Regions from separate parts of the Homo sapiens genome. Here region 2 is linked to region 1. Evidence: fine-mapped expression QTL. A gene starts in region 1. The other region holds a variant in brackets. All regions are shown on one strand. Distances are from middle to middle.

Evidence for each region.
Region 2: its variant is fine-mapped to the expression of GARS1 in whole blood (TOPMed, PIP 0.93).

Annotation. Positions count from the first base shown.
Region 1 is chr7:30,589,857-30,598,694 of GRCh38, reverse strand. It overlaps GARS1 (glycyl-tRNA synthetase 1), which reads right to left and starts at 3,817. Exons shown (of 17, transcript NM_002047.4): 1 at 3,552-3,817. The coding sequence starts at 3,773. RefSeq lists a silencer at 2,526-2,625 and enhancers at 2,521-3,134, 3,135-3,748, 3,769-4,118, 3,749-4,362.
Region 2 is chr7:30,636,045-30,644,882 of GRCh38, reverse strand. LOC124901609 (a long non-coding RNA gene) reads right to left here and starts at 2,567. Exons shown (of 2, transcript XR_007060276.1): 1 at 2,047-2,567. RefSeq lists an enhancer at 2,381-3,076. The variant C/A (reference allele first, on the strand shown) is at 5,347.

The sequences.
Region 1 (8,838 bases):
GATGCAATTCAGGCCAAGCGTGGTGGCTCACGCCTGTAATACCAGCACTTTGAAAGGCCCTCCTCACCATCTGAGATCAGGAGTTTCAGACCATCCTGGCCAACATGGTGATACACCATCGCTACTGAAAATACAAAAATTAGCCGGCCGTGGTGGTGGGCACCTGTAATCCCAGCCACTTGGGAGGCTGAGGCAGGAGAATCACTTGAACCCGGAAGGCGGAGGTTGCACTGAGCTAAGATCATGCTACTACACTCCAGCCTGGGTGACAAAGTGAGACTCCGTCTCAAAATGAAAAAAAAAAAAAAAAAAAAAAAGAATGATGCAATTCAAATGTTTATTATGTGAGTGATCATTATGAATCAAGGTCTCTGCCCTCTTCATTTAATAATCTAGAAGAACACACGGGCAAGTTAACAAATAACTGCTCACATGGTGAATTTTTTCCTTTGGGTATAGAGGGGTGAAAAAGGAGGAGACAAAAGCATTGATTAAAAAGTAGGAAAGAGCAAGATTTGTACTGAGAACACAGAAGAACCAATAAATTGACCACCTTCTTAAATCTCTCTCCTCTCGCTTACAAAAAAAAATAAAAACATTATTCAGTTTTCCTCCCACTTCTCTGACCATTCTTCTCAGTCACTGCTGGCTCATCTTCCTTTGCCTTTCTCTTTACAGTTGGAATTTTTTCCTTGCTAATATTTCTGAATTATTTTATTAACTTCCAACAACTTATACTAATTCCATATTTATAGTAATATGGTGGAATAGGTCATCTGAGTAAACAAACAAAATATTACCTATATAGGATGAAAAACTTTCAGCTGAGTAATTAAAGTTGTTAAATTGATATAGCCCTTGGGCACCCAACAGAGTTTCTAATTTCAGTGATCCATTTCCATACAATATGTGCTTCATTTTCACACTGTGTGATTGTTTTTGGTAGTCTCTTGTTCTTTGCTCATGTTTTTGAGTACTTCTTTTATTTTAAAAATTATCTTAAGCATTTTAAAAATATGTGATTATTCTAATACTTTTGGAGGATCTAATTCTATTATCATTTCCCCTAAGTCTCACTCAAGGTGGCTTGTTTCCTCATGGGTTTTTAAATTTTGAGTTTGGCACTTACTATTTTGGTAACCTTAATCTGTGAAAAATCCTAAAAGACCAATGTGGAAAGTCTGCTTCTTTTGTAATATGACGTTCTGGGTAAAGTATATGAAGAAAGACATATGTAGGTGGAAAAGGAAAAATAATTTTAAAAGCCGTTTCGGATAATTGTGGATATTCTTTGATACTACCTCAAAACTCTGACAAGTGGTAGCTTCTTCAAGGTTATTTCTAACTCAGAAACTATAGCAATGAATTTTTTGTACTGTCAGAATAAATCTATTAATGTATCTTAAGCTTTGAATGGCTCTTTCACCAATACCTGATTTCATAACATCATGCATTGGTCACCTGGAAAACACTGGTTCACTGAGTTACGCAGATTATCCAAATACTATCAAAAAAAAATCCACGTTTGTTAATATCACCACTCATCTCATCACAGATATCTTTAAGGACTGTGAAGCTGCCAAGCTCACAGCAAAAGATACGAGTCTTCCCAAATTCTAAAATTTCCCCAAAGTTTGAATTTTATTATTGGCCACAAATACTAACCGTTGTTTTCTTAAAGTGACAAACTCACTTCATTCATTTTCCAGATTAACAAATTTCTATGAAACATGTGCTACTAACAAGACCAGTCATTAAGTAAAAATCCCACTCCGGAAAGGTTTTCAATTGCACTTCACAATGGAGTTATCCAAAATGGATAGGGGTGACAGTGTGTCTCATTTCCCCATATACAAAAAATGGGTAAAATTAGATCATCTTTAAATTATTTTTCAGCTGACATAGGACTCAGTAATTCACACAATTAACTAACTGATATATGTGTGTTCTTGGAAAATTAGAAAAAAATATCCAAACTAACTTAAATCAACTAACTCGTATATTCGGAAAATATCTTAAAGTACAAAACAATAATCAAGACAACATAAACAATACACAAGACAGTAGTTAGTAGCATCGGAAAGCTGCCGCGATCAAAGTTTACTTTAGTTAACTAGATCCTGTCTTAACTACCGATGGATGATTTTCACTGCAGTTCCAGGCTAACGTGGCAGAGGGAGGGGTTTGGGTGTGGTGGTTTTTTTTTTTCTCCAAATTAGTTGTATGCTTCCTTCTAAAGGGAAGGATATTTTTTAAAATGGCAAGTTAAGAAAAGACAAAGGAACCACACCTAATTTTATTTGTGGAGTGGAAGGTGGGTGGAGGGAGACAGAATATGCAATCGGTGTTCTGACACCAATCATGAAGAAAAAAGTTAAGCCCGTGGTGATATTTCAAAATGAAAGGCTATTTATTAAAATCGGTCAGGCTCAAACCAGCGAAGAGGACAGATGGCAAAGTGGCTGAATTTGCGGCAGCTATGCCCCAATGAATTATTTCCGAGATAGGGTTCCACCCTCTGTAGCTAAGGCAAATTATTGCATCAGGCGCCCATGCAGGAGAAACCCGTTTGGTGTTTACTACTAAGTCATGATCTCCGGGGTCCTACTGCAAGCTCTGGCTCTCCCTAATTGCATATGGGAATCATCTGAAATAATCTTTTCCTTGATATCTCTAAATTCTAAACTCTATGGCAGTGCCCTAGGAAAAGGAGGTCTATATTAAATCACCAAGTCCTTCAGCCCATGAAACCTTCCCTCACCTTCGGGAAAATCAAATGTCAAAATATTCCATACTAAGGATGGCTGACTTCACTCCGCAACACTTAGTTTCCCAGGTTTACGATCTGAGGGCTCACTGGTTCCAAACGGCCTTTTCAGAAGCCAGAAAAGATGACAAGAGCAAAGGATGATGAGTTCACAGCATTAATAGAAAAGTTCGACACCTCCCCACATCCACATTTCAATTCTATTTTCTCAGCCAATCATTCCGCTAAACTAAGCACTGAATGAAGGAAGATGTTAAGGGGGAAACACTATCAAAGCATCCTAAAGATTAAAGGGCCTGGCCGTAAGACGAAAGAACCGGCAGTTTTTCGGCTCATCATTGACCACTGAAAGAATTAGGAGGCTTTCCACCCAGGGTGCACAAAGAGTACAGCAGAGCCTGGAAAACTGAAGTTAAGGTTATTCAGTTAGGAGGCGAGGACAACCAAAGGGTCACAGATCCCAGCCCCACTGGAAATAGAGGAGACGCGGGCTGTGACAGAATGGGGAAGGGAGAACGGAGCCGGAGAGGGACGCAGGAAGTCGGAGGGGTTCCAGGGAGTCATCCAAAAAGAGAGGAGGACGGAGGTCCGCGGGAGAGGAGGTGGCTGACGCACGGGGGACTTGGGACCAAAGTGGGGGAGGCGAAGAAGACGCCAGAGGATGAAGGGAAAGAAAGGGGTAACCGAAGAGGAGGACAGTTCCCCGGGGAGGAGGGAAGGATGACCAGAAGAAGGCCCTGGGAGGAGAGCCGGAGGCTTAGCGGAGAGCGCAAAACACCGGTACCTGCTGGCGCACTGCTAGCCTCAGAGGTGCCAGCACCTCCTCAGCCCCCGCGCCGTCCATGCTGCTCCGGGAGGCGGCGGCGGGCAAGGAGATCGGGGGGCAGGAGGCCGCGCTGAGGGACCGGCGGAGCAGGAGCGAGGGTCGGGCTAAGAGCCGGGGCGGCAGCAGCAGCAGCAGAGCGGCGCGAGCACCTCTAAGCAGCACTGGACGCGGAGAGGGCATGAGCCTGCGGCCCTGGGCTGTCCAGAGAGGGTGGCGACGGAAGCGGCGCGCGCCGCCCGGCTCGGAGCATGATGAAATCGCCGCGTAAACGACGCGGCGCGCGTGCTGCCGCACATTCACCACCGCGTGACGCGGCGCCGGGTCGCCGCCGCAGATTCGACACAAAACCCGGAAGGACCCCGCCGAAGGTTTTCTCCGGTTCGGGAGAGAGGTAGGTAGGGTTGCGAGCGAACAGATTTGCACAGAAGTGCGTCAAGCCACCCCAGCAGGGTGGATGTTCAGGGACACAGCTCTGAGCGAGACCTGCAGGCCGAGACACACGAGAACCTTCAAAGCATAGGTTTTTATACGAGTGACACCCCGGCCGACCTACTTGAACGGACACTTCTGTTTCTGTTCTTTCGCGCCCTGCGCCTTAAAAGGGTCGCAAAACATCAAATCAGATAGGGATCTTAGACTTCTGTTGCTCAAGTGCAGATGTTCCCCAGATAAGGAAATAGGCCCAGAGAGGTTAATGATTTGCCCAGAGTCACACATTCTTGGTCCGCCGATGTCAAGACAAAAGCTGGCGAACGGGGGAGGAGGAGTGAGGGGATAGAGTCACCCCAGGCTTTCTGGAGAAGGTAAATTCCAATCTGCCCTTGCGGGGCGAGCAGGATTTGAACCGGCAGAGATGAGGAAAGGCAAGAGGTGCCTGATAAGTCTTTCTGCTTGGCATAGCCTCAGTCTATCTGCCTCCTGTGGTTAGGCCCCAGCTGACCAACCACCCAGAGATGGCTTCCCCCCGCCCCACACACCCAGTTCCTCCTGCCCAAAGGGTGGAGGGCCTAGAAAAGCTGGGTTCCCCCTCCAGGAAAGGAAGAGAAAAATGATGTGTTGGTTATAAAAACAGCATTGCGCACACCTGCAAAAATGGCTAAAATGAAAATGATGGAAAATGCCAAGTGACCCTCTGAGACTCCCCTACACTGCTCAGGGGAGTGTTAACTGGTGCAGCCAGCCACTTGGGAGCTCTTCGGCAGTATGCACGTACGTCTCCCTGTGACCCACAATCCCACCCCAGGAGTGTGCAGGAGTAGACGGGCTCAGTATAATGAAGTCTCCTTTCCTAATGGTGTGAAAGTCCATGTTATTTCTCTTCCCGTTCCAGTGTGCAGTTCTGGAGAAGTACTTACAATTCAACATGAGCAGGGTGGGTTGCTTAAGAACCTTCTGCAATATTGAACAATTATATTTTTAAACACTTTTATTTCAAGATTTGATATTAATTATAATTTATTTGGCTTTTATTTTACTAGGCAATTTTGAATTTATTTTAATATCTTTAAATGTGAAAAATCATTTTAAGTTTTACTTTTATTTTTATTTAGATTTTTATTAAAATGTTGAAATTCTATATCCTTTGAATAAAACTATTTTATTTCTAAAAAATTCCTTAGATCAATAATGTCTCATCCATTTTCATGTTAGGACAGTCCTGAAAGGACTCCAAATCCGTTCTTCCCTCCTCCCCGACCAATTCATCCTCCCCACTGCTGCTTCAGTCATTCTTTCTTTCTTTTTTCTTTTTCTTTTTTTTTCCAGACGGAGTCTCGCTCTTTCACCCAGGCTGGAGTGCAGTGGCGTGATCTTGGCTCACTGCAACCTCCGCCTCCCGGGTTCAGGCGATTCTCCTGCCTCAGCCTCCTGAGTAGCTGGGATTACAGGCGTGCGCCACCACACCCAGCTAATTTTTTTATTTTTAGTAGAGACGAGGTTTCACCATGTTGGTCATGCTGGTCTCGAACTCCTGACCTCGTGATCCGCCCGCCTCAGCCTTCCAAAGTGCTGGGATTACAGGTGTGAGCCACTGCACTCGGCCCAGTCATTATTTCTGAAAGGCAAATCTGACTGTGTCCCTTCTCTTCTCAGGACACTTCAGTAGGCTCTTCATGGCCCTTGGAAGAATTTCCCAAACAGTTTTCTTTTGAAAACTGTGTCTGCACAATAATGATAATAGTTTATGTTTGTTGAGCACTCACTATGTACCAGTTAGTTCTAATTTATCTCATGGAATTTATTCACCAATTTAGTGAGATAGGTTCTATAGTTATTCAGAATTTTCACATGTGGGATTCAAGGGACTGAGATATCAAACAGCTTGTCCATGGTCACACAACTAAGTGAGTGTTGGGCCAGAATGTGAGCTGGGGGCAGAGGCAGATTTTCTACATAGCTAATGAAGCTTCAAGTGAGTTTAGCCCCTTTCTCTGTTGGGCTCTTTAAGTGCCCTGCAAGAGGCCCTAGTATTGTGTATGTATGATCATATATTTTTCTTGCTTTATTAAAGTTCATTTCTTTGAGGGAAATAAATTTTGCATACATTAAAATGAACAAAAATGTATAGTTCAATGGGTTTCGACAAAGCAATATCCTTTTGTAACCCCAACACCAAGCAAGATAAAGAACATTTTCCCCTGACTCCACAAAGTTCCCTTGCATGTCATCCCGGTCATCCCACCCTCCACAACCAGGCGATCACTATTCTCATTTATTTTCCTCTTAGATCTAGACTGTTGTATAAATGAAATAATGTAATATGTACTCTGTGTCTGATGTCTTTAATTGACCATAATGTGTGAGAGATTAATCCATATTGTTTCACATATCAGAAACTTGCCCTTTTTTGCTCTGAAGTATCCCATTGTGTGAATATACTATAATTTATTAATTTATTCACTAGTTGATAGACATTTGGGTTGTTTCATATTGTAGACCATTATGAATAATGCTGCTGTGAACATTCTCATACATCTTTTTTTGTAGCTATATGTTTTCATTTCTCTTGGGTAAATATCTAGGTGCGGAATTACTGAGTCAAACAATAGATGCATATTTAATTTTATTAGATTGTCACAAGTTTTTCCAATGTGGTCGTATTATTTTATGTTCTTAAGAGCAATATATAAGAGTTCTAGTTGCTCCACATCCTTGTTAACATTTGATGTTGCCGGCCTTCCAGATTTTAGCTATTCTAATAGTTGTATCTCATTGTGACTTGTATGCATTTTCCTGGTGATTAATAGAGTTGATTGTGTTTTCATGTGCTTAGTGGTCATTTGTACCTCTTCTTTTGTGAAACATCCACATTTTTTGTCTTTGCTTTTTAATATTGAATTATAGGAGATTTAGATATGCTGGATACAGTCCTTTGCTAGGTACATGTTTCATAAATATTTTCTTCCAGTCTGTGGCTTGCCTGTTTGTTAATGATGGTTTTGATAAGCAGAAATTTTTAATTTTGATGAAGTCTAATTTATCAATTTGTTTTTTTTCTGGGTTCTAAAAAATCTTTGCCTACTCTCAGATATTCACCCATATTTTTGTCCAAAATTTTAGTAGTTTTATGTTTAGGTCTATGATGCATCTTGAATTAACTTTTGTGTATAGTTTTAGGTAAGAGTCAAAGTTCATTCTTCCCATATAGATATCCAGTTGCTACAGCATCATTTGTTGGAAAAAAGTAGGGCTTACAAAAAATTACTGCCATTGATCAGCTCTAGTGCCTTTGTCAAAAATAAGTTCACCATATAAGGTGGACCTATATCTGGGGTCTCTATTCTGTTCTAATGATCCATTTATCTATCAATCTTTATGCTAGTATCACACTTCCTTGATGACTATTGCTTGAGGATAATTCCTGAAGTCAAATAATGTATATTGTCTACCCTTTCTTCTTTTTCAAAATTGTTTTTCTATTCCAGGTTCTTTCTATTTCTATATAAATTTTAGAATTGACTTATCAACTTTGTAAAAATACCTGCTGGAATTGTGAACCTGTAGTTTAATTTGGGGAGAATTCATAGTTTAAAGCACTGAATGCATTTTGATAAATATATTCCTAAGTATTTTATTCTTTGAGTCTTGTGAATGTTATTTTATTTTCCATTGATTTGCTGTTAATGTAGAGAAATATAATTGATTTTGTATAGTGACATTGAGACTTTCACTTATTAGTGCTATTATTTGTTTTGTAGGGGCGGGGGTTGTAGATTCCTTAGGATTTTCTTTTTTTTTTGAGACGGAGTCTCGCTCTGTCGCCCAGGCCGGACTGCGGACTGCAGTGGCGCAATCTCGGCTCACTGCAAGCTCCGCTTCCCGGGTTCACGCCATTCTCCTGCCTCAGCCTCCCGAGTAGCTGGGACTACAGGCGCCCGCCACCGCGCCCGGCTAATTTTTTGTATTTTTAGTAGAGACGGGGTTTCACCTTGTTAGCCAGGATGGTCTCGATCTCCTGACCTCATGATCCACCCGCCTCGGCCTCCCAAAGTGCTGGGATTACAGGCGTGAGCCACCGCGCCCGGCCGATTCCTTAGGATTTTCTGTATTAATATGCATATACTTTGTAAATAGAATCAGTTTTACTTCTTTCTTTCCAATATTTATGCCTTTTTCTTTTACTTGTGTGGTTGCGTAGTCTAGGTCATCTTGCACAATATTGAATAGAAGCAGTGAATGAACATCTTGCCTTGTTCCTGATATTAGAGGGAAAAGTGTTCAATGTTTCTCCATTTAGTGTAATGCTAACAAATTCAACTTGGTTTTGTCTTTCTTATATTCTGCTGGATTTTATTTACTAACATCTTGATAAAGATTTTTGCCTGTATGTTCATGAAAAATGAACATACAGGCAATCAGTGTATTGTTTTCTTTTCTTGTATCTTTGCCAGGTTTTGGCCTGGCTTTATAAAATCAGAGTTTCTTTCTTCTCTATTTTCTGAAATTTCAATATTTGTAAGATTGTTATCATTTCTTCCATAACCATTTGATAGAATTCACCAGTGAATTCTGGAGTTTTCTTTGTGGAAAAGTTTTTTTGCAGTTGCAGAGCCATCCATGCTTTCTATTTCATCTTTTGCCACTTTTGGTAAGTTTTGTTTTTCAGGGAATCTGGCCATTTCATATAAGTTATCAGATTTATTGTTTTAAAGTTGTTCATAATATTCCAGTAGTATTATTTGAATATATGTATAAGATCTGGAATGAAATCTCCTCTTTCATTCCTGATACCAGTAATTAGTTTTTT
Region 2 (8,838 bases), 46 kb before region 1:
GGCCACTGAGTTTTGAGGACCAATGCAGTCTGGTGCCAGGTGGAAAACTGCTGATGAAGGGGCAAGGGCACGAACAGGGAGTTCAGGCAAGTCTTTTGCAGTAAACCAGATGGGTGATGATGGCAGCTTGCCCCAAGCTGGTGGCCACGAAGGTGGTGACAAGTAGGCCCAATTCTGATATAGAGTGCAGGTGGAGTTGACAGGCTGGACAAAAAAATGGAAAATCTGGGCTCAAGTTTTTTTTAAAAAACAAAAGACTTTCTAAAGCTTGCCAGTGGGTTTTTTCTTTCCCACAATTTCACTGTACTTAATCTCTCTATCAATTAGTTCACACTTAGATGCAGAACAGTGAGTTTTGATGAGCCCAAAAAGCTTTCAATTTGCCTAAATTGTTTTCGTTAGCATAACTGCTTTTGTGCTAATTATTGGTGATTGAGTTTTAAGACCCAGCAAACGCAGGCATAGGCTGGCAAATTCTATGCAGGCTCACTTGTGCACTAAGTCTTGCACATTAAAAAAAGGAGTGCAGAGAGCTTTGGCTCCCAAAGAGAGAAGGGCTCTCTCTTCCTAGCCTCAAGTTCCTGAAACTATCATTAAGTTCAGACACTAGAAGAGTCAGGACAAGAAGCCAGCTTACTTTATTTCTGGCCCAGAGCTCACAGCACCCCTCTGCTCTTTGGCACCACTACCCTCATCCAGCAAGAATAAGGTTCCCTAAAATTCCCCGGGAAAACAGAAATCCTACTGCTCACTTCCCCACTCTCACATCTACTTCTCTAACTGTCTCACTGGATACAATGTCCTACACATTCATATTCTCAGAGGAAACCCCTTTTGAGAGAGCAATGGGTCCAGCCTTTCACACAGCTAGAAAGTTCACAAGGTGCAACAGTGGTAGTGGTGCTTCTCCTAAGAGACTTAATATACTGATGCCCAGGCTCCACCCTCAACTCATTAAATTGGTTTAAGGAGGAGCCCAGACATGAGTTTTTTTTTAAAGCTCAAGTTACTTTAATGTGCAGCCAGGGTTGAGAACCACTGCCCCAACATCTTTTACTGAGGCAACAAATTTTCAAAGGTGTGTCCTTCAACACGAAAGGAAGATAGCCCATCCAGCAAGAGGGGGGCATGTTGCCAGCAAAAGTGAAGGGGCTCTTAGCCAAGAGGGCGAAGCTGCAGGCTGCGCCTCTCAGGCAACCCCTGGTGATACTCCCAAATCACATCCCAATTTCTAGAGGAGACAGTCCTCCAGATATCCACACAGCCTTAACTAAATTACTGCTTAGAGGCAGCTCAATAACCAAGAATTATTGAACAGGCAACAACAGGCGAACATTGAGGCACAGCAAAATTAGTCATCCACTTACTTACTGAATCTTCAACTAAATTTCACTTTGGTGTTGGCCAAATGCCACAAACACCTGCCTTAAACATTGTCAGACTATCAGCAAAGATGCCGGTGCAAGCAATGCTCTCAAAGCCTCTCCATCCTAGCCCAGCCCAAGAGATACAGATAATAGTTTTCCTTTGGGAAAGAAGGTTCATTTCAGGGCAACTATAACCAGAGATAATTTGGATTTATCTCTAGGGCATCCAGCCCTCTCAAGGAATAGACTCCACTGACTAAGACAGTTGCTGCCATTACCCTGCAATTACACTGGTTAAGGGAGTAGTAAATAAAGGTCTAGAATGAATCTACTTCATGTGACTTCTAATGAAAAAAACGATTTTGCAAGTTCTTATCACAAAGAACTTGAGACGTCTGACATCTTTAGTACCAGCTCATGAAAACAGTAAGATTATTTCCATGTTCTTTAGACTTGGTGATGAATTCCTTTTCTGGAACACCATCTATATCCACCATTTTGCTATTATGAGCTGTTGGGCAATATTAAGGTGGTGGACTCCTGCAGAAGCCAGGCAGATAGCCTCTCTGAAGTAACTCCACATTGCATTTGACTGAATGCCTGAATTCCAACCTAAGTATTAAAAATCTAATTCCTGTGTTCTTACATAACAGTCCATGGAAATTAGTTAGAATCTGACCTTCCTGGAGGAGCCAAGATGGCCGAATAGGAACAGCTCCGGTCTACAGCTCCCAGCGTGAGCGACGCAGAAGACGGTGATTTCTGCATTTCCATCTGAGGTACCGGGTTCATCTCACTAGGGAGCGCCAGACAGTGGGCGCAGGTCAGTGGGTGCACGCACCGTGCGCGAGCCGAAGCAGGGCGAGGCATTGCCTCACTTGGGAAGCGCAAGGGGTCAGGGAGTTCCCTTTCCGAGTCAAAGAAAGGGGTGACGGACGGCACCTGGAAAATCGGGTCACTCCCACCCGAATACTGCGCTTTTCCGACGGGCTTAAAAAACGGCGCACCAGGAGACTATATCCCGCACCTGGCTCGGAGGGTCCTACGCCCACGGAATCTCGCTGATTGCTAGCACAGCAGTCTGAGATCAAACTGCAAGGCGGCAGCGAGGCTGGGGGAGGGGCGCCCGCCATTGCCCAGGCTTGATTAGGTAAACAAAGCAGCTGGGAAGCTCGAACTGGGTGGAGCCCACCACAGGTCAAGGAGGCCTGCCTGCCTCTGTAGGCTCCACCTCTGGGGGCAGGGCACAAACAAAAAGACAGCAGTAACCTCTGCAGACTTAAATGTCCCTGTCTGACAGCTTTGAAGAGAGCAGTGGTTCTCCCAGCACGCAGCTGGAGATCTGAGAACGGGCAGACTGCCTCCTCAAGTGGGTCCCTGACCCCTGACCCCCGAGCAGTCTAACTGGGAGGCACCCCCCAGCAGGGGCACACTGACACCTCACACGGCAGGGTATTCCAACAGACCTGCAGCTGAGGGTCCTGTCTGTTAGAAGGAAAACTAATAAACAGAAAGGACATCCACACCAAAAACCCATCTGTACATCACCATCATCAAAGACCAAAAGTAGATAAAACCACAAAGATGGGGAAAAAACAGAACAGAAAAACTGGAAACCCTAAAATGCAGAGTGCCTCTCCTCCTCCAAAGGAACGCAGTTCCTCACCAGCAACTGAACAAAGCTGGATGGAGAATGACTTTGACGAGCTGAGAGAAGAAGGCTTCAGATGATCAAATTACTCTGAGCTACGGGAGGACATTCAAACCAAAGGCAAAGAAGTTGAAAACTTTGAAAACAATTTAGAAGAATGTATAACTAGAATAACCAATACAGAGAAGTGCTTAAAGGAGCTGATGGAGCTGAAAACCAAGGCTCGAGAACTACGTGAAGAATGCAGAAGCCTCAGGAGCCAATGCGATCAACTGGAAGAAAGGGTATCAGCGATGGAAGATGAAATGAATGAAATGAAGCGAGAAGGGAAGTTTAGAGAAAAAAGAATAAAAAGAAACGAGCAAAGCCTCCAAGAAATATGGGACTATGTGAAAAGACCAAATCTATGTCTGATTGGTGTACCTGAAAGTGATGGGGAGAATGGAACCAAGTTGGAAAACACTCTGCAGGATATTATCCAGGAGAACTTCCCCAATCTAGCAAGGCAGGCCAACGTTCAGATTCAGGAAATACAGAGAACGCCACAAAGATACTCCTCGAGAAGAGCAACTCCAAGACGCATAATTGTCAGATTCACCAAAGTTGAAATGAAGGAAAAAATGTTAAGGGCAGCCAGAGAGAAAGGTTGGGTTACCCTCAAAGGGAAGCCCATCAGACTAACAGCAGATCTCTCGGCAGAAACCCTACAAGCCAGAAGAGAGTGGGGGCCAATATTCAACATTCTTAAAGAAAAGAATTTTCAACCCAGAATTTCATATCCAGCCAAACTAAGCTTCATAAGCGAAGGAGAAATAAAATACTTTACAGACAAGCAAATGCTGAGAGATTTTGTCACCACCAGGCCTGCCCTAAAAGAGCTCCTGAAGGAAGCGCTAAACATGGAAAGGAACAACCGGTACCAGCCGCTGCAAAATCATGCCAAAATGTAAAGACCATCGAGACTAGGAAGAAACTGCATCAACTAATGAGCAAAATCACCAGCTAACATCATAATGACAGGATCAAATTCACACATAACAATATTAACTTTAAATGTAAATGGACTAAATGCTCCAATTAAAAGACACAGACTGGCAAATTGGATAAAGACTCAAGACCCATCAGTGTGCTGTATTCAGGAAACCCATCTCACGTGCAGAGACACACATAGGCTCAAAATAAAAGGATGGAGGAAGATCTACCAAGCAAATGGAAAACAAAAAAAGGCAGGGGTTGCAATCCTAGTCTCTGATAAAACAGACTTTAAACCAACAAAGATCAAAAGAGACAAAGAAGGCCATTACATAATGGTAAAGGGATCAATTCAACAAGAAGAGCTAACTATCGTAAATATATATGCACCCAATACAGGAGCACCCAGATTCATAAAGCAAGTCCTGAGTGACCTACAAAGAGACTTAGACTCCCACACATTAATAATGGGAGACTTTAACACCCCACTGTCAACATTAGACAGATCAATGAGACAGAAAGTCAACAAGGATACCCAGGAATTGAACTCAGCTCTGCACCAAGCAGACCTAATAGACATCTACAGAACTCTCCACCCCAAATCAACAGAATATACATTTTTTTCAGCACCACACCACACCTATTCCAAAATTGACCACATACTTGGAAGTAAAGCTCTCCTCAGCAAATGTAAAAGAACAGAAATTATAACAAACTATCTCTCAGACCACAGTGCAATCAAACTAGAACTCAGGATTAAGAATCTCACTCAAAACCGCTCAACTGCATGGAAACTGAACAACCTGTTCCTGAATGACTACTGGGTACATAACGAAATGAAGGCAGAAATAAAGATGTTCTTTGAAACCAATGAGAACAAAGACACAACATACCAGAATCTCTGGGACGCATTCAAAGCAGTGTGTAGAGGGAAATTTATAGCACTAAATGTCCACAAGAGAAAGCAGGAAAGATCCAAAATTGACACCCTAACATCACAATTAAAAGAACTAGAAAAGCAAGAGCAAACACATTCAAAAGCTAGCAGAAGGCAAGAAATAACTAAGATCAGAGCAGAACTGAAGGAAATAGAGACACAAAAAACCCTTCAAAAAATTAATGAATCCAGGAGCTGGTTTTTTGAAAGGATCAACAAAACTGATAGACCGCTAGCAAGACTAATAAAGAAAAAAAGAGAAGAATCTAATAGACGCAATAAAAAATGATAAAGGGGATATCACCACCGATCCCACAGAAATACAAACTACGATCAGAGAATAGTACAAACACCTCTACGCAAATAAACTAGAAAATCTAGAAGAAATGGATAAATTCCTCGACACATACACTCTCCCA[C/A]GACTAAACCAGGAAGAAGTTGAATCTCTGAATAGACCAATAACAGGATCTGAAATTGTGGCAATAATCAATAGCTTACCAACCAAAAAGAGTCCAGGACCAGATGGATTCACAGCTGAATTCTACCAGAGGTACAAGGAGGAACTGGTACCATTCCTTCTGAAACTATTCCAATCAATAGAAAAAGAGGGAATCGTCCCTAACTCATTTTATGAGGCCAACATCATTCTGATACCAAAGCCAGGCAGAGACACAACAAAAAAAGAGGATTTTAGACCAATATCCTTGATGAACATTGATGCAAAAATCCTCAATAAAATACTGGCAGACCGAATCCAGCAGCACATCAAAAAGCTTATCCACCATGATCAAGTGGGCTTCATCCCTGGGATGCAAGGCTGGTTCAATATACGCAAATCAATAAATGTAATCCAGCATATAAACAGAGCCAAAGACAAAAACCACATGATTATCTCAATAGATGCAGAAAAAGCCTTTGACAAAATTCAACAACCCTTCATGCTAAAAACTCTCAATAAATTAGGTATTGATAGGACGTATTTCAAAATAATAAGAGCTATCTATGACAAACCCACAGCCAATATCATACTGAATGGGCAAAAACTGGAAGCATTCCCTTTGAAAACTGGCACAAGACAGGGATGCCCTCTCTCACCACTCCTATTCAACATAGTGTTGGAAGTTCTGGCCAGGGCAATTAGGCAGGAGAAGGAAATACAGGGTATTCAATTAGGAAAAGAGGAAGTCAAATTGTCCCTGTTTGCAGACGACATGATTGTATATCTAGAAAACCCCGTTGTCTCAGCCCAAAATCTCCTTAAGCTGATAAGCAACTTCAGCAAAGTCTCAGGATACAAAATCAATGTATAAAAATCACAAGCATTCTTATACACCAAACAACAGACAAACAGAGAGCCAAATCATGAGTGAACTCCCATTCACAATTGCTTCAAAGAGAATAAAATACCTAGGAATCCAACTTACAAGGGATGTGAAGGACCTCTTCAAGGAGAACTACAAACCACTGCTCAAGGAAATAAAAGAGGATACAAACAAATGGAAGAACATTCCATGCTCATGGGTAGGAAGAATCAATATCGTGAAAATGGCCATACTGCCCAAGGTAATTTACAGATTCAATGCCATCCCCATCAAGCTACCAATGACTTTCTTCACAGAATTGGAAAAAACTACTTTAAAGTTCATATGGAACCAAAAAAGAGCCCGCATCGCCAAGGCAATCCTAAGCCAAAAGAACAAAGCTGGAGGCATCACGCTACCTGACTTCAAACTATACTACAAGGCTACAGTAACCAAAACAGCATGGTACTGGTACCAAAACAGAGATATAGATCAATGGAACAGAACAGAGCCCTCAGAAATAACGCCGCATATCTACAACTATCTGATCTTTGACAAACCTGAGAAAAACAAGCAATGGGGAAAGGATTCCCTATTTAATAAATGGTGCTGGGAAAACTGGCTAGCCATATGTAGAAAGCTGAAACTGGATCCCTTCCTTACACCTTATACAAAAATCAATTCAAGATGGATTAAAGACTTAAACGTTAGACCTAAAACCATAAAAACCCTAGAAGAAAACCTAGGCATTACCATTCAGGACATAGGCATGGGCAAGGACTTCATGTCTAAAACACCAAAAGCAATGGCAACAAAAGACAAAATTGACAAATGGGATCTAATTAAATTAAAGAGCTTCTGCATAGCAAAAGAAACTACCATCAGAGTGAACAGGCAACCTACAACATGGGAGAAAATTTTCGCAACCTACTCATCTGACAAAGGGCTAATATCCAGAATCTACAATGAACTCAAACAAATTTACAAGAAAAAAACAAACAACCCCATCAAAAAGTGGGCGAAGGACATGAACAGACACTTCTCAAAAGAAGACATTTATGCAGCCAAAAAACACATGAAAAAATGCTCATCATCACTGGCCATCAGAGAAATGCAAATCAAAACCACAATGAGATACCATCTCACACCAGTTAGAATGGCAATCATGAAAAAGTCAGGAAACAACAGGTGCTGGAGAGGATGTGGAGAAATAGGAACACTTTTACACTGTTGGTGGGACTGTAAACTAGTTCAACCATTGTGGAAGTCAGTGTGGCGATTCCTCAGGGATCTAGAACTGGAAATACCATTTGACCCAGCCATCCCATTACTGGGTATATACCCAAAGGACTATAAATCATGCTGCTATAAAGACACATGCACATGTATGTTTATTGCGGCATTATTCACAATAGCAAAGACTTGGAACCAACCCAAATGTCCAACAATGATAGACTGGATTAAGAAAATGTGGCACATATACACCATGGAATACTATGCAGCCATAAAAAATGATGAGTTCATGTCCTTTGTAGGGACATGGATGAAATTGGAAAACATCATTCTCAGTAAACTATTGCAAGAACAAAAAACCAAACACCGCATATTCTCACTCATAGGTGGGAATTGAACAATGAGAACAGATGGACACAGGAAGGGGAATATCACACTGGAGACTGTTGTGGGGTGGGGGGAGGGGGGAGGTATAGCATTGGGAGATATACCTAATGCTAGATGACGAGTTAGTGGGTGCAGTGCACCAGCATGGCACACGTATACGTATGTAACTAACCTGCACAATGTGCACATGTACCCTAAAACTTAAAGTATAATTAAAAAAAAAAAAGAAAATTTTCAGGAAAAAAGCATGAGAGTTATTATAAAGGTGTTAATTTCCTCATATACATAATAAATGAATACCGTGATTCTATATATTTTCCCTGATGGCTAATCTAAAAAGATTAAATTCTTAAATAATAGTTAAAAGCAGAAAAATAGAAAATATCTAATTGTATGTTTTTGTATTAGATGCTGATCATACTTTAATTCTATAATTCAAAATAGTATCAACCCATTTCTAAAATGACACTCTGTAAAATAATTTAAAGTGTTAATTATATGAGAAAATTACACATACATGTCTTCTTTAAACTTTTTTAAGTGGCTTTGTTTTCATTAGACTGTATTATTTGTAATCAGTATAGTTTAGTAAAGTTATTTTGAAAATAAAGATAATTTTTGTTATCCTTTGTTTTTCTCACGTTTAATGTCAGTCTTCCAAAGAAAAATAAAATTTGGCACTAAGCACAAGAAAAAAAAAAAAAAGAATCTGACCTTCCCCCATCATTTTTGGGAGAAGTAATAAACAGGAGTAACTTCTCCAAGATACAATGCTATTTATCTCACTCTTGTTAAGCCCACAGTCCGGTACGTACAGGTATATAAATAATTTAAAAGGCCTCAAAGAGCATTAAGCCAGAAAGACCCATGCTTTAAATACACATTGGGCTTGAACAGAAGAGGTGTGTGCGTATGCATACGCAAACTCGTGGGTAAAGAGTCTCTTCATTTAGAAAACAGCACTTCAACTGCTTGTTCTTAAAATCAAGC